Linked DNA regions of Homo sapiens: regions 1, 2 and 3 are each linked to region 4. The links come from fine-mapping of genetic effects on gene expression. A gene starts in region 4. Each other region holds a variant in brackets. All regions are shown on one strand. Distances are between the middles of the regions.

Region 1 (5,788 bases), 400 kb after region 4:
GTGTAGTCCACAGCCAGCCCCTCGCCAGCTACCCGGTGCAGCAGCTCCTGCCGCCCAACACCCGATACTGGACTCAGAAGCTAGAGTGGAGGGGTAGGGAAGGACAGAACTGAGCAAGATGGAGAGAGCCTGTCCCAGCATTGTCCCCTAGGGCCATCCAGCAGCTGGGACTCAAAGCTATCACATCCTCCATCACACCCACCCCCCACACACATCCACACCATAGGATGCAGCACAGGGATGTGTCCCTGCCCCAGCCCGGTCCCCTCCTCCATCCCACTCACCGACGGTACCAGGGTGGAGTCTGTGAGTGTCAGGCCCTCCAGGTCAGCAGCCAGACTGGTAGACACAATTGCTGGGGGAGACACAGGCTGGACACTGGGAGGGGTGACTGTGGGAGTAGATAAGACTATGAGGAGGCAAAGTGGAGGTGGCTTGGGTTGAGCAGGGAGCCTAGGGATCAAGGAGCACGCATTTCAGCACCATGGACAGCGGGGCACATGGCTGCCTGGAGGCTCTCGCAAAATACCCATTCCTAGACCTCAACCCCAGACCTGGGGAGGTCAGCCCTGCTGCCCTCTCAGGCCTGAAGATATGTTCTGTCTGCTCCCCTGCTCCCACAAGACCTGAGGAACCCGATCCAGAGTCCCTATGGGCTGTTCTAATTCATGCTCCCCAGGCCTCCTTTCCCCTGTGACTTTTACCACCCAAACTCACAATCCTCTAGATCAAGCAGGGAGATCTCCTTGGTTGCAGGAGCACTTTTGCTGCTGGGAGGCTGAAAGAGAAAAATGGGATGTGGGTGTGGGGAAGGGGAGCACCTTGGCATGTTCTGGGTTGGGTAGAAGATGTCATGTTCTGTTCTGGATGGTAGGGAGATAGATGTCTGGGCCTGGCCCAGAGGTTGGGGAGGGCCCTGGCCCATGAGCACACCCTGACTCTGCCCCAAGGCTCTCACTGTTTTCCTGCTCCAGGAGGCAGGTTCTAACTGCTCCTCCTCGGACTCCGATGTCATCTCGGACTCTGATGAGCTACTGCTGGAATCGCTGCCCTCATCAGAGGATGACGCTTCTCCTTTTCTCTCTGGCACCTTCTTCTTTGTCTTCCTCTTACCATCCTCCTCACTCTGTTCACTGAAGGAGTGGGAAAGGTTGGCTCAGGCCTGGCCTGGACACTCCCTCCTTGCTTCACAGAAGCAGGAGAAATGCTGAAAAGCTGGAGTGGTGTGGGGAGCCTGAGCCAGGAGGGTTCACACCTGAGGTCCTATAGCAGGGACCCCGTGAGAGCTTGAAGCCAGCTTGTGCCAGCTCAGGCTCTAGGACTCTGGTTGCTTCTCCACACCAGCCCATGAGGCCTCAGAGATCTCCTGCAGCCAGCGAAAGTAGGCGTCATGTGAGCTGACAGCCCCACCCAGCTCACGAGGGGCTCAGGGGCTCTTAGGAGACTGGCTAAAGCTCAATGCTAGCCCTCTTTCCAGGAAAGCCCCCTGAACCCCACCAGCCATCTGGCTAGCTCCCTTCTCACCTCTCACTGCCTCTCCCTTTCTCCTCATCCTCATCCTGGTCTTCATTGTCGGACTCACTGCTGGACTCCCCAGAGCCGCTCTCACTGCTGCTCTTACTGTCCGATTCACTCTCAGACTCAGGGTCTGTGGAGGAACAATATGAGGCCTCCTCCCTCATATGCAGGCCTCCTTGGGTCTGGAGCAGACACCTGGGTTCCACCTTCACATTCAGTACTGAACCCTCAAACCTCTCTGACCTGCCCCCAGCCCTACATGCCAGCTGGAACTGACAGAAACACAGATGGACTCCATGGATAGAAACCTGCACAAGCACACACACCTGGAACATGAATCCCTCAGGTGCACAAACAATTCACAAGCAGGTGCACACCCCTAGACACACAACCATATACATATACCCCTCATATAGTCAGTCACACAGATGCATGGGCAGAGCACAGAGGACCCCAGCTCTGCCATCTGCTCACCACTGTCTGCGGACTCCGTGGGGCCTGACTCCCCCTCAGAGTCCGAGTAGAAGGGTTTTTCCTTCTCCTTTCTCTTCTCCCGATTTGAGCACTTGGTCCATTCAGGTACCTGGAGATGGGGGTAGGGTGCAGGGTCATTTCATCATGGTTGGGGAGAAGGCAGGCAGGCACAAGCCCTTACCCTTTATTCCACCTCTTTGTGAGGCCCTACCTGGTCTGTCCCACAAAGGGAATAACAGAGGAGGAAGAAAGGGGCACTGTCCATGGAGGGGAGGGAATGCTGCTCACAGAGGAGCACTGCCAAACCAAGGTGGAAACAGAGTATGGGAAGGCCCAGGAGCACAACACACAGGGGAAGAAGAGGGACACAGACAGGGCAGGGGAGAGAGCACACGTCACACGAAGGTGGGACCTCAGTGTATTCGCCCAACAGGCCCACGTGAGTCTCAATAAGGGAGAGATCTTCTTCCTGTGTGTGTGGGGGAGGGTGTTAGGAGGGCTGGGCCGGCACTGCCAGGGCTCCCTACTGTCTGCCCCCACCAACACACACACACACACACACACACACACACACACACACACACACACACACACACACACTTCAACCCTCCACCCCGCTGACCTCCACGTTGCGCACAGATGGGTCTGGGGCTTCCTCCGGCCAGTCTGGGAGCTCCTGGTAGCCTGTGGCCTTGGCATTAAGCAGGTGGGACAGTGAGCCCAGCTGGAAGTGGTCCCGGTCTAGGGATAGGTTTAGAGGTCAGGCAGGTAGCAGCAGTGAGGGAAAGCTCTGGGAGCTGTTTTCCAGGTGGGGCTGGGTGGTGATTCTGGTTGGGACTTCCCAGGTGGGTAGGGGAAGGAGATGGATGTGTGCCCTAATGGCTCTTCCACCCTGACTGCACCTTTAGGCCCACATGCTGGAAGAAAAGGCTGTCTGGCCAGGCCAGAGCAGGGACTGAGGGCCAGGGAAAGGCAGCCTACAGAGGTGGGCAGGAGGAGACTCTGGGCCCACAGATGCTGCCGACCTGTCTGCTCAGCATGCACGTCTAGTCAGGCTCTGGACTCAGCAGGGAGGGATGAACAGTCAGAGCATGAGTGTGTAGAAGTCTGGATCAGAGTTGAGGCACTGCTGGAGGAGGGCAGCACAGGCCTGTGAGTGAGGATGGTGTCGGGGAGAAAGGGACTGTTGCCTTCTTCCTGGGAGAATTTCAAAGCTGTGCCCACCCTCAGAATCTCCCCATTCGTGAGGTCCAGGGAAGAGAAAAAGAA[C/T]GAAAAGATACCCAGAAGAACTGAGCTTTGTGAAGGAGGCTCTCTTCTGTGTAGGTTCCTGGCTTCCACTCCTGGGGCCCGGAGAAGCAGCGGGAGGACCCTTCCCTCCCAGGCCCATCTCAAGGCCGTTGTCTTGGGAAAAGAGGCCTTAAGGGCCAAGCCCAGGAACAGAGGCAAGGCTGAAGCCCTGGGGCCTGGGATTTGGACTGACTGTAGTGACTAAGCTCACAGAATGCAGGCAACTGCTTTCTCAGGACCTTTATAAAAATATACACCTCTCCTTTGTGTGTTGTTTTGCTTTCTGCCTTCCTGGGTCCTTGGTATTTAAGATCTTGGTATGTATTCCAAAGCCTAGTGTCTGCTCAGGGAGGGAGATGGAAAAGGGAGCCTGAGAGGAGAGGAGGCACAAGTCCATCCTGGCCAGGAAGGCAGACCCTCAGGTGAGATGATGCTGGCAGTGGTTATGGGAGGGTGAAAGAGTAATTCCTGGTGCCACAGGAGGGACAAAAGGAGTGAGCCAGGGAGCAGGACTGTCCACAGAAGCCTGGTGCCTGGCTAGGGGCCTCAGGAAGGTCTGGGGCAGAGACTCTGGCCAGTTCCTTTCCATTCCCCTAGGAAGGTTACCCTTGATTTCAGCTCCCACCTTTGAAGGATGACTCCAAGACTGGAGCTGGTTTGGGTGCCAGGAAGAGCTTCTTGGCATGGCGGCTGAGGGCCCCACCCTGCTCGGAAGGGACGATGAGCTGCCGGGTGAAGCGCGCCCGGTCGCGAATATCATAGTTCTGGTCATATTTGGCCAGACTCAGCACATACTGGGTCAGCAGCTTGGTCTGGAGGAACAGGAAGAGGTGGGTCAGCTGACGGGGGGATGGGGACACAGGAGGCTCAGAAACAGATTCTTTAAGCCGACACTTTCAGGCAGAACGTCTCCTCTCCCTGCTTAGGACCGGCGCTTCCACCCAGCTGTCCCTCCCCACCTGCCCTTGTTCTGGGCTCAGAATTTTCTCTCATCTCTCTGGACATGCCTCCTGATGATCCCAACTTTGACAACTGCCTTGGGCCAACAAAAGAGGTTTTCCTTTTGGACTTTCCCCACTCCTGGCTCTGGACTCCATTCTTCCCTAGATTTGTGGTCCCTACCACTCCAGGCCTGTCCAGCCTCTTTACTCTAGGGCAGCAGGGTATGTGGAAGTATGGAATGCTCTGCTGGACCTCACAGTTTCCAGGCTCCACCACCCAGGGGGAATTAGACAACAAAAAGACAGGGCAGATAAACAGGGGTCCCTTTGGCAGGGGCCACCCTCATGCCCTATCCACCCATTTAGTAGATTCTGAGCAGCCCAGGGGTCTCAGAGGTCTTTATCCTTCCCTGGAAGCTTCTAATGACATCAGGGCAAACTGCAGCTGCCCATGCATTTGCCAAGGTCATGTAGGGTTCACAGTCTGCAGTCAGGGAAGCTACAACTGCAGACCTAAAATATCTCCATTTCTGCCATGATCTTGGCCTAATCTAACCTGCCTTAACATGGCAACAGCGGTAGCAGCCATCACTTATCAAGTGCCTTCTGGCACCAACTCTGTGCTAGGTGCTCCACACTAGCTCATCTAATCTCCCCAAGCCTTCTGAGAAGTAGGCATTATTGCCCCCATTTTACAGAAAAGAAGCAGGATCATTAAGGGGCTTTTCCCAGGCCAAGGAGCCCATCAGTACTGCACCTAGGCCTGCATCTGCTGGAGCTGCACCCCATCTGCTTCCCTTCACTGCCTACCTGCTGACATAAGGAGCCTGCCCTGGCCCAGGTCTCCATGTTTCCATCACTTGTGACCAAGATCAAAACCACCAAGTGGTCAACAAGCAGAATGCCCAAGGGCATCAGGGGCCGGCAGGAGGGAGCCTGGAACTGACTCTGTTCTTCCTGAGGTTTATGGTGACATACTGTTACGTGTAGCCTTGGACATGGTTAACCCAGCTAATCTGGCAGGGACATCAAGCAGATGTCCATAAGGGGCAAAGCCCCTCAGATGCTGACCCAGAGTCTGAGCAGCTGCTTTGGCAGAATTGCCCCACACCACTCTAGAGAGCCACTATGATTCCACATTCCTACCTCCAATCTGGCCCACAGGCCCTCTTCAGCTCAGTCCCTTCCAGCAAAGCAGCACCTGCGATACTGTTATAGTCACAGATAAGCAATCCCAATCCCATGCACCGCTAATAGAATAGACTTAAAAATATGAAAATAAGATGCCATCACAACAGATTTCATCACCAACCTGCCCCTCTCTTGGCCAGACACCATCTAAATGGCCAGGGCTAGTGGATGCCCTTACCAACATAGTCAATTATCAAGAGGCTGCTGATCCCTCTTTTGGTTTGGACAATGTCTTCCTCCACAGATTTCCCAGCTGGCTGATCACAGACTCCCTCCTTCAAGTCCTTGCCTAGTTCTAGAAAGAACTGTTTGGTATTTGGATCCATCTGTCCACAGCCTTAACTGCATGTTAACAACCAACACAGGAAGGGGCTGGC
Region 2 (5,788 bases), 560 kb after region 4:
AACTATCCATATGAGCCTGTCTGTCTAGCTAGACATAGAAACAATATGGAAGCAAGTGTGCCAAAATATAAGAAGCAGTTGCCTCAACTAGGTGAGATCATGACTTACTGTCTTTTTAAAAATGGAATACCTAAAATTTTATATCAATGAACATGTATTATTTTTATCATAATAAAAAAGTTAATAAAATTTCTTTTAAAAAGGATATTCTGCAGGTAGTATGGAGGCAATAAAAAAAGGATTAGCTCATGATAAATGTTTCCCTTTTTAATGAGGTGTAATTATATTTTATTTTTATAATCCAACAGGAATGCAGAAAGAAATGGAACAGGATGCGAAGAGATTTGGTCAGGCTGCCTGGGCCACAGCAATTCCCAGGTTGGAAAAACTTCAGCTAATGCTAGCTCGAGAGACTCTGCAACTCATGAGAGCGAAAGAGTTGTGTTTAAATCACAAAAGAGCTGAAATTCAGGGAAAGGTAAGACAAAGATAAACATAACTTTGTTTTAAAAATACACTTTTATTTTTAAAACATTTTGTATAAATAAAGGATACAAGTGCAGTTTTTGTTCCATGGATATATTGTGTAGTGGTGAAGTTTGGGCTTTTAGTGTAATCATCACCTGTATAATGTAATTGTACCTATTAAATATTTCTCATCCCCCCTCCCACCCTCTTACTCTTCTGAGTCTCCAGTGTGTATTATTCCACACTGTGTATACACATTACTTAGCTCCCACTTATAAGTGAGACCATGTGGTAAAGCACACTTTTATTTTTAGATAGCACTTTTCTTTCCAGGCATCGTTAAAGAGCTTCTTTTCTTCGCTTATTCCAACACCATCTTCTGTGGAAGGTTAGACATAAAGTTTTCCTTTGGTTAAGATGTTTCAAAATACCATATTGTAGGTTTCACTTTATAGTAATACCAAGCTCAGTATTGAAATGGGTACTGTACTTGAAAATCAACCCAGCAATGTTTTCACTACAACTTTAAAATAATCAAAGAGATACTTCACTGCATAGTCACTTAAATTTTTTCCTATAATCTTATGACTTTAAAGCAGAAAACACTGTAAACACCTGTCTTAGTTGGCTCAGGCTTCTATAACAAGATTAAATATCACAGATTGGGTGGCTTAAACAACGGACATGTATTTCTCACAGTTCTGGAGGCTGGAAAGTCCAAGATCAAGGTGCCTGCAGATTCACTGTCCGGTGAGGATCCTCTTCCTGTCTGGTAGACAGCTGCCTTCTTAACTGAGTGCTCATATAGCCTTTCTTCTGTGTGTATGTTTAGAAAGAAAGTGATCCCTCTCTTTCTCTTCTAATAAAGGCACTAATCCCATGATGGGGGTGCTATCCTTTTGACATAATCTGAACTTAATTACTTCCAAAGGACCCACCTCCAAATAACATCACACTGGGAGTTAGAGTGTCAACATACGAATTTTTGGGGGGACACCAATATGCAGTACATAATAATACCTCATTGCCATTTATGTTTCTCAGAACCTAAATGTTTTCCTCTGTTTCAAGGATGAGATAAAGTATTTGCATCACTAGATGAAATGAAAAAGTGTTTCTTTCCTATTTGCTTTGTTATATTTAGTACTGAACAAGGAATAGAAAATAGCTAGAATGCTTCTAAAGTTTGTTTTTAATATACTAATTTATTTTAACTTATTTTTCTTTTTTCTATGAAAATAAGATGGAAGATCTTCCAGAACAAGAAAAAAATACAAATGTTGTAGATGAATTAGAAATACAATTTTATGAAATTCAATTAGAACTATATGAAGTTAAATTTGAGATATTAAAAAACGAAGAAATACTGCTTACTACACAGTTGGACTCTCTTAAAAGACTTATAAAAGGTAAAATTTAAGTATATAGATTGCAATGTTTAAATTATAAATTTAAGGAAATACAGACCATATTATCAATTACTTTTTGTAAATTATAACATCTGAAAATTTCCTAAAGTTTTCCTTCAGTGGTTTATTATTCAAATAATATATTCATTGTTAACACATAGCAAAACAAAGAAAGAAAAATGATTATTACCCCAATCCCATCATCTAGAGATGCTTAGTGGTTGGCTGGGCACAGTGGCTCACGCCTATAATCCCAGCACTGTGGGAGGCCGAGGCGGGCAGATCACTTGAGATTAGGAGTTCCAGACCAGTCTGGCCAACATGGTGAAACCCCATCTCTACTAAAAATACAAAAATACTAAACCCTGTCTCTACTAAAAACACAAAGTCCAGTGTGGTGGCACGTGCCTGTAATCCCAGCTGCTTGGGAGGCTGAGGCAGGAGAATGGCTTGAACCTGGGAGGTGGAAGTTTCAGTGAGCCAAGATCGTGCCACTCCACTCTAGCCTGGACAACAGGGCGAGACTCCATCTTGAAAAGGAAAAAAAAAAAAAGATACTTC[G/T]TGGTAACAATTTGCTGTATAACTTTGTAGATTTTAAAATATGCTGATATATAAAAATATAAATTTTTAACCAAAATATATAACCAGTTCAGTAACATCTTTTTAAACAATTTTTAATTTTTATGGGTGCATAGTAGATATATATTTTTATGGGTTACATGAGATATTTTGACATAGGCATATAATGCATAATAGTCTCTTTTTCATTTAATACATAACTGTCTTTCTATTTCAGTGAATAATAAAAGTATCAAAATTTTAATGGCTGCATAGTATTCCATTATATGGATATACCATGATTTCCAAATTTCAGGTGTTTTGAACAGTAGTGTAGTGAACTTTACACATGTCTTTGAGTATAGGACAGATTATTTCCTTGGAATAAATTTCTAAGGATGGAATTATTGGGTCAAGGGCAATGTATATTTTACATTTTGATACATAACAGTACAATAATCATCTGAGATACATTTTTCCTCACCTCCATATTATTTTCTGATTTCTAAATTTCATGCTACATAATGACCCTCTAGATAGGTTGTACATTTAAAATGATGCTCCCAGGCTGGGTGTGGTGGCTCACACCTGTAATTTCAGCACTTTGGGAGGCTGAGTGGGGCAGATCACTTGAGGTCAGGAGTTCAAGACCAGCTTGGCCGACATGTTGAAACCCTGTCTCTACTAAAAATACAAAAATTAGCTGGGCATGATGGTAGGCGCCTGTAATCCCAGCTACCTGTGAGGCTGAGGCAGGAGAATCGCTTGAACCTGGGAGGTGGAGATTGCAGTGAGCCGAGATGGTGCCACTGCACTCCAGCCTGGGCGGCAGAGTGTAAGACTCTGTCTCAAAAAAAAAAAAAAAAAAAAAAAAGAAAAAAGATGCTCCCATCAGCAGAATATGAGTGTGTATGTTTCCCAGACTCATGCCATTCTTTTGCATTTTTGCTTACTTGACAGAGAAAATGGCAGTCTTCCAATTTTCATTTATTTAATTATGAGTGAATATTGAACAAAATTTTGTATGTTTACGAGCCATTTGTACTTATTTTATGAAATGCCTATTCATAGTCTTTGTCCATTTTTCTTTGGAATATTTCCTTTCCACATTAAAAATAATATCCTCTATTGTCTGTCATATGTTGCAAATAATCTCTCCTTGTCATTTGTGTTTTCTTGCCTTTCAGAAATATTTAATTTTTATGAAGTCACGTTTATCAATTTTTTTCCCCATGGCTTCTGCTTTTAGTATTATGTCTGGCAATATTCTCCAATCCCAAAATTATGTCAATATATGCTTATGTTTTCTTTTCGTATGTTTATGATGTTGCTTTTTAAAACATTTAATTCTTTAGTCCAGGTGGAATTTATTTTGATTGTCGTAGGAATTGAACCTTTCCCTCAAATTGTTAAGCAGTCCCAATCACTGATTTTAAAAACATTTTCCCTAAATGTTTAACATTTCTCAAGTTAAACATTAGATTGACTTTGGTCTGTTTCTGTGTTGTTCTCCTCCATTGGTTTGTGAGTGGCTTCTGCTGCTGGCTCCATACCGTTCCCATGACTGTACCTTGGAAGCACATTTTAGGGTCTGGTAAGGCAAGTACCTCCCCCATTACTTCTCCACAAGTTTTCTGACTATTTTCACTCCTTTATTCTTCCAGATGAAATTTAGAATCAAGTTCAAAACAAAAACTCGTTGGAATTTTGATTGTGATTTTGCTTAAAATTAGAGATTACTTTGGGGAGAATAGTGGTCTTTGCAATTTTGAATCTTCCTACCCAAGAACATGGTATGTCTCTCTCCATTTATTTAAATCTTTTTTCCTAAAGTTCCTCCAAGTTTAATAAATTTCTTCACATAGATCCTGAACTTTTAGTTTAATCCTGAGTATTCAGAATTTTTTGCAGTAGTTTCAGGTTATAAGCATTTTACATATTTAGGAAAAAAATTACATTAAAAAAAGAAGTTAATCTGGAAGGATGCATGCCAGATTGTTCATAATGTTTTTCCTCTGAGAATGACTCAGAAGGTTTGGGGAAGGAGCAAGACAATTTCACTGTTTTATGTACTTCTGGAGGGTTTGAATTTGTTACAGTAAGCATGGCTTTAAAAAAAATCAATATGTAATCAAGATTATATATGACTAAGACATCTTAATAATATATTGCTGGTAGAATATAAGTTGCCTTTCTGGAGGGCAATTTGTCAATGGGTATCAAGATCCTTAAATATTTATCTGCTAAGGAAGTGATAAAAAGTGTACACAAAGATTTATACAGGGATGTTCATCACAGTGAAATGAATAATAGTGGAACATTGGAACAGCCTAACAACATGGACTGCTTAAATTAGAGAATACTATGCTGCCATTAAAATTTATCTTTTTAAATTTTTTTTTATTTTTGGAGATGGAGTCTTGCTCTGTTGCCCAGGCTGGAGTGCAGTGGCACGATCTTGGCTCACTGCAACCTCTGCCTCCCAGGTTCATGCTGTTCTCCTGCCTCAGCCTGCCAGGTAGCTCGGATTATAGGCATGCGCCACTGTGCCTAACTAATTTTTGTATTTTTAGTAGAGACGGGGTTTTGCCGTGTTGGCCAGGCTGGTCTTGAACTCCTGACCTCAGGTGTTCCGCCTGCCTTGGCCTCCCAAAGTGCTGGGATTACAGGCGTGAGCCCCTGCGCCTGGCCTAAAAATGTATTTCCATCCCATGGAAAATGTTCTTTTAGAACTCCATTGATATGTGTAGCTATGTAAGTAGTATGTGTGTGTGTGTGTATATATATATATACACACATATGTCTATATACATGTATGTATACATGCATACACTACATGGATATACACACATGCTACTTACATACATGTATATAGTCATGTATATACACATGTGTGCATGTATATTACATATACACATATTTTTCATATATGTTAATAGTGCTTCTCAGTGGTGGGATTACAAGTGATCTTTATTTTTCTTACATTTAAAAAAATTCAATGCATTTTTTAAAATAATAAAATATGTTTTAAACAATCATTAATACATTTTTAGAAAAACAAGATGAAGTTGTCTATTACGATCCATGTGAAAATCCAGAGGAACTTAAAGTCATTGACTGTGTGGTGGGGCTGCAGGATGATAAGAATTTGGAAGTGAAAGAACTCAGAAGGCAGTGCCAGCAGCTGGAGTCTAAACGGGGCAGGATCTGTGCCAAAAGAGCCTCTCTCCGGAGTAGAAAGGTAGGTACGCTCAGAGCGGCTTTCTTTTCTTTTCTCTTTCAGAGATTTATTCTTGTATGAAGGATAAAGGTATTGAAATAAGGTTTTTACCAACACAGTGATTACATTTTGT
Region 3 (5,788 bases), 37 kb before region 4:
TATTAGAGTAGGAAGGAAAAAATACCAGAGGTACCTGCTAGCATCTAAAGAGAAATGGTCTCTTCCAACAGGTTTATCACTATGATCCAGAGACTGTTAATCACTTTACATATATTATAGCACATAATTTATCACAACAATTAAATGAAGTAGATATCGTATTCCTATTCTACATATAAGAAAAGGGAGACTGGAAACTTAAGTAACTCGACCCAAAGTCACACAGATATTAAATGGAGGAGCCATAATTCAAATCCAGATCTGTATGGCTCTGAAGTCTATGCTCATTATCACCAGGTTATGTCTTTCCTTCAAGAGGAATTAAAGATAAAATTGTCATCTTATGTAAATGTGATTTCACTTTAGTTTTAGTGAAAAAAGAAGTGTATTTGTTCACTTGCAGATTAAATCCTCATCTGTCTAAGTTCATGAAGTGATCTGGAATAATCAGCATGTACAGTCATTAAGTAAGCATCAACTGTATAGATGCCTGCTGTCTATCTATGTATCTATCCATCCATCCAGTTAACAACTACTGTGTGCCACACACTGCTGGGCACTGGGAATGATGGTAGCGGGGAACAAAGCAGATAGTAATCAGCAAGGATGTGTAAAAAGTACCCACTGTGTATCCAGCATTTGTTGAGAACAAAGAAATTTAATTACAAGAAAATGGGGCCCTACTAGTGAGGAAACAGTTGTGAGTGTTAAGTTATTTAGGCTATAGTTAAACTAACCATGGATGTTACTTCTTGAAGGGGCAATAGTTACTAATACTGAGATGAAGGAGACCAGAGGTGAGAATGTTGACCGAAGATTCAAATGTCAGGTTGGAAGGTGAATTTGAAGAAGCAAAGAAAAGAGGCAAGAACACAAGAACAGAGGAGAAAGTCCTGTAACAGTCCCACACTTCATTTACAACCACAGTGGCACTGTTGAGCAGTGAGTAAAGGTCAGTGTCTTCACTAAGTTAGGGAAAAAATTTTTTAGGCTTTGTGGGCGCCGAATCCTGTTTCCTGCCTTACTTTTCTCCCTGGCACATATCACTAATACATTGTACTCTATACTAAAGGAAAATAATACTCTGCTATTCCTGGCTTGTATGTCTAATACAATGGAGATGAAAATGCTATCAAACCAACTTCCAATGGTACATTTTCCCAAATTTAAAAAATAAAACTTAAATGAAAAAAAAAAATCAGCTAGAAGATGGAAAAGAACAAAGTAATGGTGATGACCTTGCCCAGGTATACCTGAAAACACTATATTATTATGTAACAATTGTTGAACCTGATATACTGGTTAAAAAACAATGACAAAAATAAAATCAGTAAAAAAACTTCATGGAATAGAATGGATTGCACTATCAGAAATATACTAAAATCAGAAAAGCATATGATGAATTATTAGGAAAAACATTCACAGAAAATGTAATTAACAGTAGAGGCATAATAATACTATTATTCATCAGCAAGAAATGAAGGATGGGTAGAGCTAGGAATTTTAAATGCTATAAATACATGTATTTCAAATCTTAACAGCAAGTTTTCCAATTCTCTGATATTCCCTATGATTCTACCAGAATCTCTCAGATACTCCCAATGGCCAAAAAACATCCAATATCCTACATTTGTTACTACAAGAAATTGTTACTACATGTAGCACTGAAATATTATCTGGGAGTAGCCTAGATACATAATTAGACATTCATTCATTCCATTATTCACTCACTTACTTACTCAGTTAGCCACTCATTCACCCATTCACTGACCTGTTATTCCCCCATTTGGATATTCACTCATTCATTCTTCATTTACTCACCCATCTATTCCTTTACTTATCCCCAGGACAAAAATTATTGAATACACTTAATGTCCAAATCACTAGGGAAGTACTAAAAAACAAAGCATAACCTTTCCCCTGAAGGACAAACAGAATTTTATCAGAGGAAAAGAAGCCTTCTCAGATGGAGGAACAGCACAAGTACAGATAGGACATTTGTTCAGACACTAGTATATTAGAGAAACAGAAATAAAAATCTAGTCGAAACATGGTTTGGGGTCAGGTCATGGTGGGTCAGAAATGCCACTAAGACAGGTCAAGTTTATTTCACGGGCTGATGATCTGACCTTCAGTCACTCACATATCATTTTCATGATTTCTGCTATATCTGCATATTATTATTTAATACTTATTTAAATGCACAAACATTTTTAACTCAATAAAACTTTAAAATCTCATCATGGTAAAGGCTTTATCACTTGACATACACAGGCAATACACACAAATACACATTAAAATAAATATGACAACTAATTATATTAAAACTTGTTTCCCTAAGTACCACTGAAATCATCGCCAACACTTTACACTTGAATCAAAACTGCTCAAGACAGTGAGGATCATTAAGGGTTTTTGAGCAAGAGACATATCTTCATAGCTGAGTCTTATAAAGATCACTCTAAAGAAAGAATGGCAAGTGGATCAGTGGAACTAAAGATGGGGCAGGAGAACCAGCTAGGAGGTTGCTGCAACAATATCCACAAGAGATGATCAGAATCTAAACTAGTGGGGAAAGCAGCAGAGACAGAAGGAGGGGAACACACATAAAAAACAGGAAATGTAGAAGACACAGATTCCCCAAGACTCTGGAACTTGAGGAATATCCCTCTCCTACACCTATCACACCTGTGCACACATAATACACACAGGGAAGCAGAGATCCTCATACATTCATAATCTCTACTGAGGTAGGCAGAATTAGATGAGACAAGGCAGACTTAGATTAGAACTTGCCTGACATGTTTAATAAAAGTTAATTGTTGCTACTACTGCTAACATACTCTTCAA[A/T]CTTACATCACTTCAATTCAATATTCCAGAGCTGATTTCAACAACTTTCTCCTACAGAGGTATCACAAAAGGATATACTACTGTATAAATTGTATGTTACCCTGGGGGTTGGCTTGATATGAATTCTGGGTTGAGGAGGAAAAGCATTATCCGTGCCCCCCCTACCCACAGCCCAACTGCATCCCACCAAACATACACCATATTCCTAGCCCAGCCCAACTTTCCCCTTTCCCTTACCTTGGCTTATTCTGAGGCAAGGCCTTAGCATCAACTGCAAACATTTTGGAAACAAATATAATAACTGGAGCAGTGTCCTCACTTCCACATTTCATAAAAGCTAAACAAATAGGAAGTAAAAATGTCACTATTTTTCCCATTATTAAAAAAAAAAAACAGATTTTTCTGGAAAACAATTAAAATGTTTAGAACATGGATGGCATCATCAAAATACACCAGAAGTCCATAACTTTTTCCAACTATGATAAAAATTTTAATTAGAAAAGGGTAAGATTGCTAGGAAAGAATAGCAGAGCAAGAGCAAACAGTTGGCAGAAATAAGAAAAGAAAAGCAAGCAAATTTGACAGGGTGAGGGATCTCATATGAAAGCTAAAGCTATGCAATGAGGTTAACCACCTACCATAAGCACTAATACATTTTTCACTGTATCAAGTATAGAAAATAGAATTGAGGAATGTTACCAAAGGCCAACAATCAACAAGGTAGCTTGTTAATAAGATACATAAAAATCAATAGCTTTCCCAATCCCCCACAATAACAAGTTAGAAAATAAAATGGACAAAAATACTGTATTATGATATTAACAAATTCTTAGAAATAAATTAAGATTCAATACTATTAAGATACCAATTCTCCCTAAATACACAAATTTTAATGCAATTTCATATTAACATATGAACATTTTCCTTAACCTATACTGGAGGTAAAAAAACATTGATTAATGAATTTTTTTAAAACAATTCCATCACCTCACGTTAAAATAATTTATATATAAAGAATTCAACAGTAAAATACAAACAAGAAAAAAGAAAACCACAGGAAGTAAGAATCAAACATGTATCAGAAGTCTTGCCAGTGGAAGCTTTGAATGAGGAACAGAATGACATGCCCTGATTTATATCTTAAGAGGATCACTCTGTTTTGTCTGCAATAGTTGAGAAAACACTAACAGGAATCAAGAGCAGAAGCAGGGATACTAGTTGTTTCATTGTTGTTGTTGTTGTTTGTTTGTTTGTTTTTTCAGATGGAGTCTTGTTCCGTCGCCCAGGCTGGAGTGCAGTGGCGTTATCTCGGCTCACTGCAACCTCCGCCTCCCAGGTTCAAGCGATCCTCCTGCCTCAGCCTCCCGAGTAGCAGGGACTACAAGCGTGTACCACCACGCCCAGTTAGTTTTTGTATTTTTAGTAGAGACGGAGTTTCACCATGTTGGCCAGGAAGTGAAAACATTGGGAAATAGTTGAATTCTGTATTTCAAAGGAAGAATAAACAGGATTTGCTGATGGACTGGATGTTGGAGTGTGAGATAAATATAAGGGCCATAGATGACTCCAAGGTTTTTGGACTGAGTAAATGAAAAGATTGAGGTCTCCCTAACTGAGATGGGAATGACTAGGTGAGCAGGCTTGGGGATAAGATAAAAAGTCCAGTTGGGGATATGTTCAGTTGAGATGCTTCTTAGACAACACAGTGTAGAGGGAGTTCTAGATATCAGTCCAGAGTCCAGAAAACAGACATGCTCTGAAGACACATAATCGTGGGAATTATGAGTATGTAGCTGTCATTTAAAGTCTTGAGATTGGGTACAATTATCAAAAGAGGGACTACAGATAAAACAGATGAGGATCAAAGACTTGAACCTTGCTTGAGGCACCCCAAAGTTAAAAAGCCAGGGAGATGGGGAGGAATCACAAAAAGAGATATTAAGGATAAGCAGCCAGGGAGACACGAAGAAAAGCAGAAGCAAGGGAATGAAAGCAATGGAAGCCTAAAAGTCAAGGGACGAAAGTGTTTCAAGGAGGAGTGATCAATTGCGTCAAATGCTAGTGACAGATCTAGTCCTGTGAAGACTGAAAACTGGCCATTAGATTTAATGAACCGAAAGTCAATAGTGATGCCAAGAATAACAGTGTAGTGGTTTGGGGGCAGGGTTACAAAACCAATAGAACTGGAGGAAAAGAATTAGAGATAAGAAAATACGTGGAGACAAATTTCATGGAACCTACAAAGCCCAGAATGGGAGCTTCTTTTCTCACGAGGAGCATGTGTACAAGTCGCTGGTCTCACCCTACTGCCTGAGCAAAATGGCTGTAACAAGAAAACCTTTGGGGTGAGGGTGGGAGGCAAAACTGGTGAAATGGTCATTTGTGAAACTGTTCATCTGTGGAAGTGGACATTTGGCAAATTGGCCATTTAGCAAACTAGCGTTCAGCAAACTGGTCTAGAGCAGCCTGGATGGAGGACAGTCAATGACATGGTATATTCCAACAGGTCCATCTTTCCTCACCTGCTTTCAGTGCTTGAGTTTCTGGTGGAAAAGAGTCAAAAGTTTGTGATCCTGTGCACATCAGTCTCTCCACTCTCTCAGCTGTAATATCAAGGGGACTAGGAAGTTTCTGACACACCATAGCTGAAGTCTATTGTTAAGGACTGAAAACCTTGAGCCAGTGCCTCCCACCAAGGCGAAGATTCACTGTATGCACTAAATATTGAGGTAACAAAGTCTGTCCATACAGAAAATGCCTGTGCTACAAGGCAACACTGCTTTATGCATCACATCTCAAAACATGCATACAATTTCAGGGAGTTCACAAACTCCTTAAAGCTCAGAAAGGATCCTCATGACAGATACTTTAACACTGAGGCCCATGAAACAAATGAGAACAGAGCTTAGCAGGTTGGCTACAGGTGACCTTGAAATGA
Region 4 (5,375 bases):
TCCCCATGCATGGCCTCAGCTGGAATTTGCTAAACTGTCTTAAGAAAATACTTACTTATCAAAGAAATTCAGGAACATTATCCATATCTCTTACTGTTTGTAATATAGCATGTGGAGGGCATAAACATACTGTAACAACCAATGAAACCTAGTATCCAAATCTAAACCTAGGAATCTACTTTAAAGCAAAAGAATCTTCGAATATATTTATAGTTACTTTTATTAAGCAGACTACATACAACTAAAGTCTATGAGATTTTATGTGATATAAACAGGTGATTCTGTGTAAAGAATGTCAGGGGTATGCATAATTACTACAACTGGGTTGGAGTAAGCAAAGGAGGGTTTTTTTCCTTCAAGACAAGTCTTTATTGCACTTTAGGAACTTCAGCAAAGCTATGGAATCTCTGTATTGTTCAAACCAGAGACCAATGAGTAGGAGAACTGAAGATATTTAACACTGCTATCTGTCTGCAATGTAAATATGTATTAGCATATAATCCTAGAGCATCACTTTCCTGCTACCCAGTAAAGCTGAATTTATTCTAAGTACACCAAGTATATACCTCCCTAGAAAATAATTATCAAGCAAGCAGGAACTTTGCTTTATTCACAGCAGTATCCCTAGGACCAGAACAACGCTTGTCATATAGAAGACCTTCAGAAAATACTTGTTGAATGGATGAATCCCAGGTTTTTTAGGATAGTAGCAGCTTAACATAATTTTAAACAATACATTTAAAGTAATTTGTTACACCCCACTAACTTTCCACTTGAATAAATTCATAAAGAAAAAAAAAACCCTTTTATCAGCCTTCACATTCTCAAAATGTGAGCAGTAAAATTATAAAAACTCATGGAGGCAGGGGTTACTCACTGGATTTGTACTAAAACTCATTCACAGCTGGCTTCACTTGTAAGTGATCCACTATCTGTCTTTCTGTCAGTTTCCATACTCACATTACTTCAGCTCTTCTATCAATGACAACAGCCACCTAATCTCTGACTTTGGATCCATCCTAAGCATGTCTACCAATCTAATCTTTCTCATGTTTTATTTGATTACATCATTCCTGCTCCATGTTTTCCCCCAAAGGCTCCCTACTGCCTAATAGTAGACATTAATGATCGTTTTCATGGTGAAGCGTTTACCTTCCCTCTCATTATTATCACATTTAATCCTATAGCCTATAAAGCAGGTATAGTTTTCATCCTGTTTTACAGATGCTGTATATTGAAGCTCAAAAAGGCAAGGTATGTAACTTGAAAATGGAGATCTGAACTTAGGTTGTCTAACTCCAGAGCTGGAGCACTCAACTCTTATCCCAGTTCCTAGCTGGCATGAGCAGCTCTATGAGATATGACTCAGCCTGCTTCTTCACCTCGCCAACTGGTCCTTCATCTTCAGGATGGTAAATATGTTTTATTTCATATGCCCATCCCAATCACTTTGCTGTGGTTACCTAAACTACCAAGAGGTTTGAAATCAAGAGGAGGCTTAGCATGAAGGAGCGCTATGGAGTTACAGCAGTATCTGTCAGAAGAACATACCATGGGTTAGCTATCTCTGCCTTTCCCATATACTGGGCTTTGACCACATATATTTCCCTCTCCCCTTGATGACACATTCCCACCTGTAATGATTATCTCCATTTGTCATCTTGAGCCCCCTTCAAGTGTCATCTCTAATACTAATTATGTTGTGAGGTCTTTTCCTAACCCCTCACTTCCTAATCCTCTAGTTCTCCCAACCTTAGAGTCTACTTTTTTCTCTTGTTTGTCTCATTTTGCTCTGCTCCCCGTTAAAACCTCCCCTGGGCTAGTGCCCTACTCATAAATCTCCACCTTCAGACATACTAAGCAAAATATCTTGAACTTAACAGACGTTTGATAAATATCTGATGAATTAAATAGGATCACATACCACAGACTCTAAGGACATTATGTCAAGACTACAGACATTTTATATGTAAAGCCATTTCAAAAACAAAAAATTCAAGTTCTGCTTTAAAAAACAACATGACATAATATATAGAAGAATGCTACTCACTAGGTAACCGTGTTCATTTCAAATGCTTTATAGCAAAGCAGGCTTCCCTAACATCACACAAAACTTTTAAAGAAAGAAGACTTGCTTCTTAGCAAACATCACTCTCAGCTGTCCACAGCTTCACTCCACTGAGACATACAGAGACACATCTCCCTTATTTATCAAAATAAGCCATTTAAAAAGTATTCTTACCATGGTCAACATGAGCCAAAACACAAATATTCCTGATGTTGGCAGTGTTTTTCTGGAGTTGAATCATCTTATCCAAACTGTTGAGCACCATGATTACTTATTTCCTGTGACTAAAAATTAAATATGTATTACAAATGGCCCAGAGGCTAAAGGTCGGGGCAAAAGAAAAAAATAATAATAAACGCTGGGAGGTGGCAAGCTTCTCAAACCCCTTAAACCAAGAACCCAGTGAATGTTTATTGATGAGATAGACCACCAAGGCCTAAGTCCAGTTCGAGCACTAAAGTCAGTATCCTACCACGATTACACTTAAGGAGTTTGCTCATCCTTCCGGATCCAAAGGCTGCGATGAATCACGCAGCTCGAGGGGACTGGGTGCACAGTGACACCAGTAACCCTGCCGGTGGAGGAGTACTCCAGTAAACATCTCCAGGCCAATGACCACGTACAGGAAGGGTTGCATCCAGGAGGGAGAGAAAATGCTGAAGAAGATGCTCCCTTTCTCTCTTCAGTCTTCCCCCAAGTCCCTCATTCTGACATTCTCGCTCGTCCTCGCGCGAGGTCAAATACCCAGCTTTATTCCTGCCCATGGAGCCCGAACAAAGTTTTGGGTCACGTGCTTATTATCCAAGCAGGTGCACTGCCGGTCTTTCATTCCTTTCTAAATAAAAAGGAAAAACCTCTACACTACATGCCCTTCATTTCTGCAGGGTCCCAGATTCGTTCTCTTTGAGGATCCTGGGTCCACACAGACAGGCGACCGCCCCGGCCCCAGACGGGAAGCGGCACTCCGGGGACCGAAGCTCCCAGCCCGCGCTCGGCCCCAGCCCCTGTTCCCGCCTCAGAGCCGCAGCGAGCGGGTTCCTCCGGCACCGCCCAAAGGCTGGCCTAGGAGGTTCCAGCCCCCAGCGCCAGCCCACACTCACCGGCTGCAGCAGCCCCACCAGCCCCGCTCCTTCTCTCGGGTCGCACCCACACCGAGAGCTTCCGAAAGTCCGAGAGCTCTGCGGGTCCGACACGCCCGCGCGCCAGGGGGCGGGGCCGGCTGTCGCTCGACCTTTCACCCGCACGTCTCTGACGCCGCCGGAAGCCGGCGCCGAGTCTGTCACCGGGCATCCCTCTGTTGCCTTGACTACGGCGGGCGCTGTGGGAGTGGAGAAGCTGCAAGTGCTGAGGCGCGGTGGAGGAAAGCATGGGAGCCAAGAGTATGAGGAGCTGGTGTCTGTGTCAGATTTGTAGCTGCGGGTAAGAAACGGCTGGTGTAGCGGCGGGCCCGGGCTTGGGAGCCGACCTAGGGCCTAGGTGCACGGAGCCGGCTCCTCGGGAACCCTGAGAGTGGCCGTCCCCCGGAGATGAAGGGACGAGGGCGCAGCGACATCCCCACTTATCCCGCTCCGCGAATACTCGCTCCTCACCCGCCTGCTACCCGGGGGTAAAACGTTTGTTCGTAGCCCCTGAGACTCCCAATCAAGGATGCAAAGTAAAATGCCACCCGGGCCAGGTAAGTAATATATGTGAAGCCGCGACGGGATATAACGCTGGTGAGTAGTGGGATGTGATCCGACTGGGAGAGTGCATTTCCACCCCATAATCCCCCACCACGAAGATGAGAAAGAACAGTGCTCAAGGCCCTGAGTCTGCAACCCATATCACATTTTCTTTCATCTGTAGCTTTCTGTCCTCCCAGCCAGACCATATTCCCATTCCCGTCCAGGCAGCAGTTCTTTGGGATCCGCCTGACTGAAAAGTCAGTAAGTAGTCCCTACCCTGAAATCTAGAATCCAACTGTGAGTCCTGCCTAACAACCTTCCATCACCTGTAAACACAGTCCTCTCCTTCCTCAGCTTCACTATTGACCCAGGGATTAGATCATTATTTGCTAAGTAAATATGAACGTTGTCAATCCCTGGTGTATTTGTAATCCCATTCAAAGAAAACACCTACATGTTGATGGAAAGCAGTTTTTTTAATAGTCTCATAATAAACACAGTTCATAATTATATATAGATTAAAATATCAACAAATTAACTTTGGGTGTATGAATCCTCAGACTGGTGTGCAGGAGAAAATTTTTACTTTTCTCCTAATTTATATTCAACGCAAGTTCCTTTCTCATTCAACTGTAAGGAAATTCAGTCTTCATTATGTTGAGGGCCACCATTGGAATGGCGTGATTTTACTTCTTGTTTGTTTGTTTTGGGCTGTGGTTGTTAGTTTTGTCTTTTTAAGGGTTTATTTTTATTTTTTGACAATGCAATAAATACACAAGAAGTATCATAAAAATCTAAGCAAAAATATCTATAATATTGTAAAACGCCTTCATAATTCTATCTTCCACAGATAACAAATGTTCTTTAAGACTTGTTTTACATATGCATTGATTTTTTTTTTTTTTTTTTTTTGAGACAGAGTCTGGCTCTCTTGCCAGGCTGGAGTGCAGTGGCGCAATCTCGGCTCACTGCAATCTCCGCCTCCCGGGTTCAAGCAATTCTCCTGCCTCAGCCTCTCTGAGTAGCTGGGATTACAGGCTCGTGCGACCACACCCAGCTAATTTTTGTATTTTTAGTAGAGACGGGGTTTCACCATGTTGGCCTCCATCTCCTGACCTCATGATCTGCCTGCCTCGGCTTCCCAAAGTGCTGGGATTACAGGCGTGAGCCACTGCGCCTGGCCTGCATTGATTTTTTTTTTTTTTTAACAAAAAAAGAGAATATTCTGAGCATACTATTCTACAATCCGGTTTTTTACTATTTACAATCTCACCAACTTCCAATGATCATGCATAAAGACCACCCTCATTCTCTTAAATAACTGTATACTATTAGCTTATATGATATATTGGTCAAGGTTCTTAGTTGTGGATAACGTAATCTCCTCTGGTTAGTCTAGGCAAAAAGGAATTTATTAAGGAGTATATATATAGTTCACTTGGAAGAACTTAAGAAATCATTTTCAAAATAAGCTTCCACAAAAATTTTACCACAGACCAGGACTGACAAGGGAGCCACTGCCTCTGCCATAATCAGAAAATTGCAACAGAGCTGTAGACTCCAGAATCACTCGTCTCTTCCAAGGTCAAGAAGCTGCCAAGTTAGGAAACCAGCTTGCAAATCAAGATGCCGCCTAACAACTT

Direction of the effects. Positions count from the first base shown, and alleles are read on the strand shown. Sizes are in standard deviations (SD) of each study's normalised expression. Not every link is listed here.
With allele C in place of T in region 1, the expression in unexposed skin of the gene that starts at base 3,289 in region 4 is lower (small effect, 0.35 SD a copy in GTEx).
With allele T in place of G in region 2, the expression in rectum of the gene that starts at base 3,289 in region 4 is higher (large effect, 0.92 SD a copy in CEDAR).

What was found. PIP is the estimated chance that this variant, and not a neighbour inherited with it, causes the effect.
Region 1: its variant is the best candidate, but not a certain one, in a credible set for the expression of EFL1 in unexposed skin (GTEx, PIP 0.82).
Region 2: its variant is the best candidate, but not a certain one, in a credible set for the expression of EFL1 in rectum (CEDAR, PIP 0.51).
Region 3: its variant is the best candidate, but not a certain one, in a credible set for the expression of EFL1 in lung (TOPMed, PIP 0.54).

What each region holds. Positions count from the first base shown.
Region 1 is chr15:82,662,843-82,668,630 of GRCh38, forward strand. AP3B2 (adaptor related protein complex 3 subunit beta 2) reads right to left here. Exons shown (of 27, transcript NM_001278512.2): 15 at 3,905-4,091; 16 at 2,615-2,733; 17 at 2,405-2,461; 18 at 1,993-2,101; 19 at 1,525-1,648; 20 at 959-1,133; 21 at 718-778; 22 at 285-391; 23 at 1-80. All of the region lies in intron 3 of CPEB1-AS1 (CPEB1 antisense RNA 1), which reads left to right. Among named protein-coding and RNA genes, the nearest start is that of CPEB1-AS1, 18 kb to the left of the region's middle. RefSeq lists silencers at 335-629, 372-572. The variant C/T (reference allele first, on the strand shown) is at 3,262.
Region 2 is chr15:82,817,612-82,823,399 of GRCh38, forward strand. It overlaps WHAMM (WASP homolog associated with actin, golgi membranes and microtubules), which reads left to right. Exons shown (of 10, transcript NM_001080435.3): 4 at 309-478; 5 at 1,712-1,877; 6 at 5,489-5,676. Among named protein-coding and RNA genes, the nearest start is that of WHAMM, 11 kb to the left of the region's middle. The variant G/T (reference allele first, on the strand shown) is at 2,439.
Region 3 is chr15:82,222,078-82,227,865 of GRCh38, forward strand. EFL1 (elongation factor like GTPase 1) reads right to left here. Exons shown (of 20, transcript NM_024580.6): 11 at 5,373-5,495; 12 at 3,088-3,187. Among named protein-coding and RNA genes, the nearest start is that of EFL1, 38 kb to the right of the region's middle. The variant A/T (reference allele first, on the strand shown) is at 2,851.
Region 4 is chr15:82,259,446-82,264,820 of GRCh38, forward strand. It overlaps EFL1 (elongation factor like GTPase 1), which reads right to left and starts at 3,289. Exons shown (of 20, transcript NM_024580.6): 1 at 3,169-3,289; 2 at 2,243-2,352. The coding sequence starts at 2,333. It overlaps SAXO2 (stabilizer of axonemal microtubules 2), which reads left to right and starts at 3,373. Exons shown (of 4, transcript NM_001348699.2): 1 at 3,373-3,487. The coding sequence starts at 3,435. RefSeq lists a silencer at 1,219-1,405 and enhancers at 3,414-3,503, 3,524-3,593.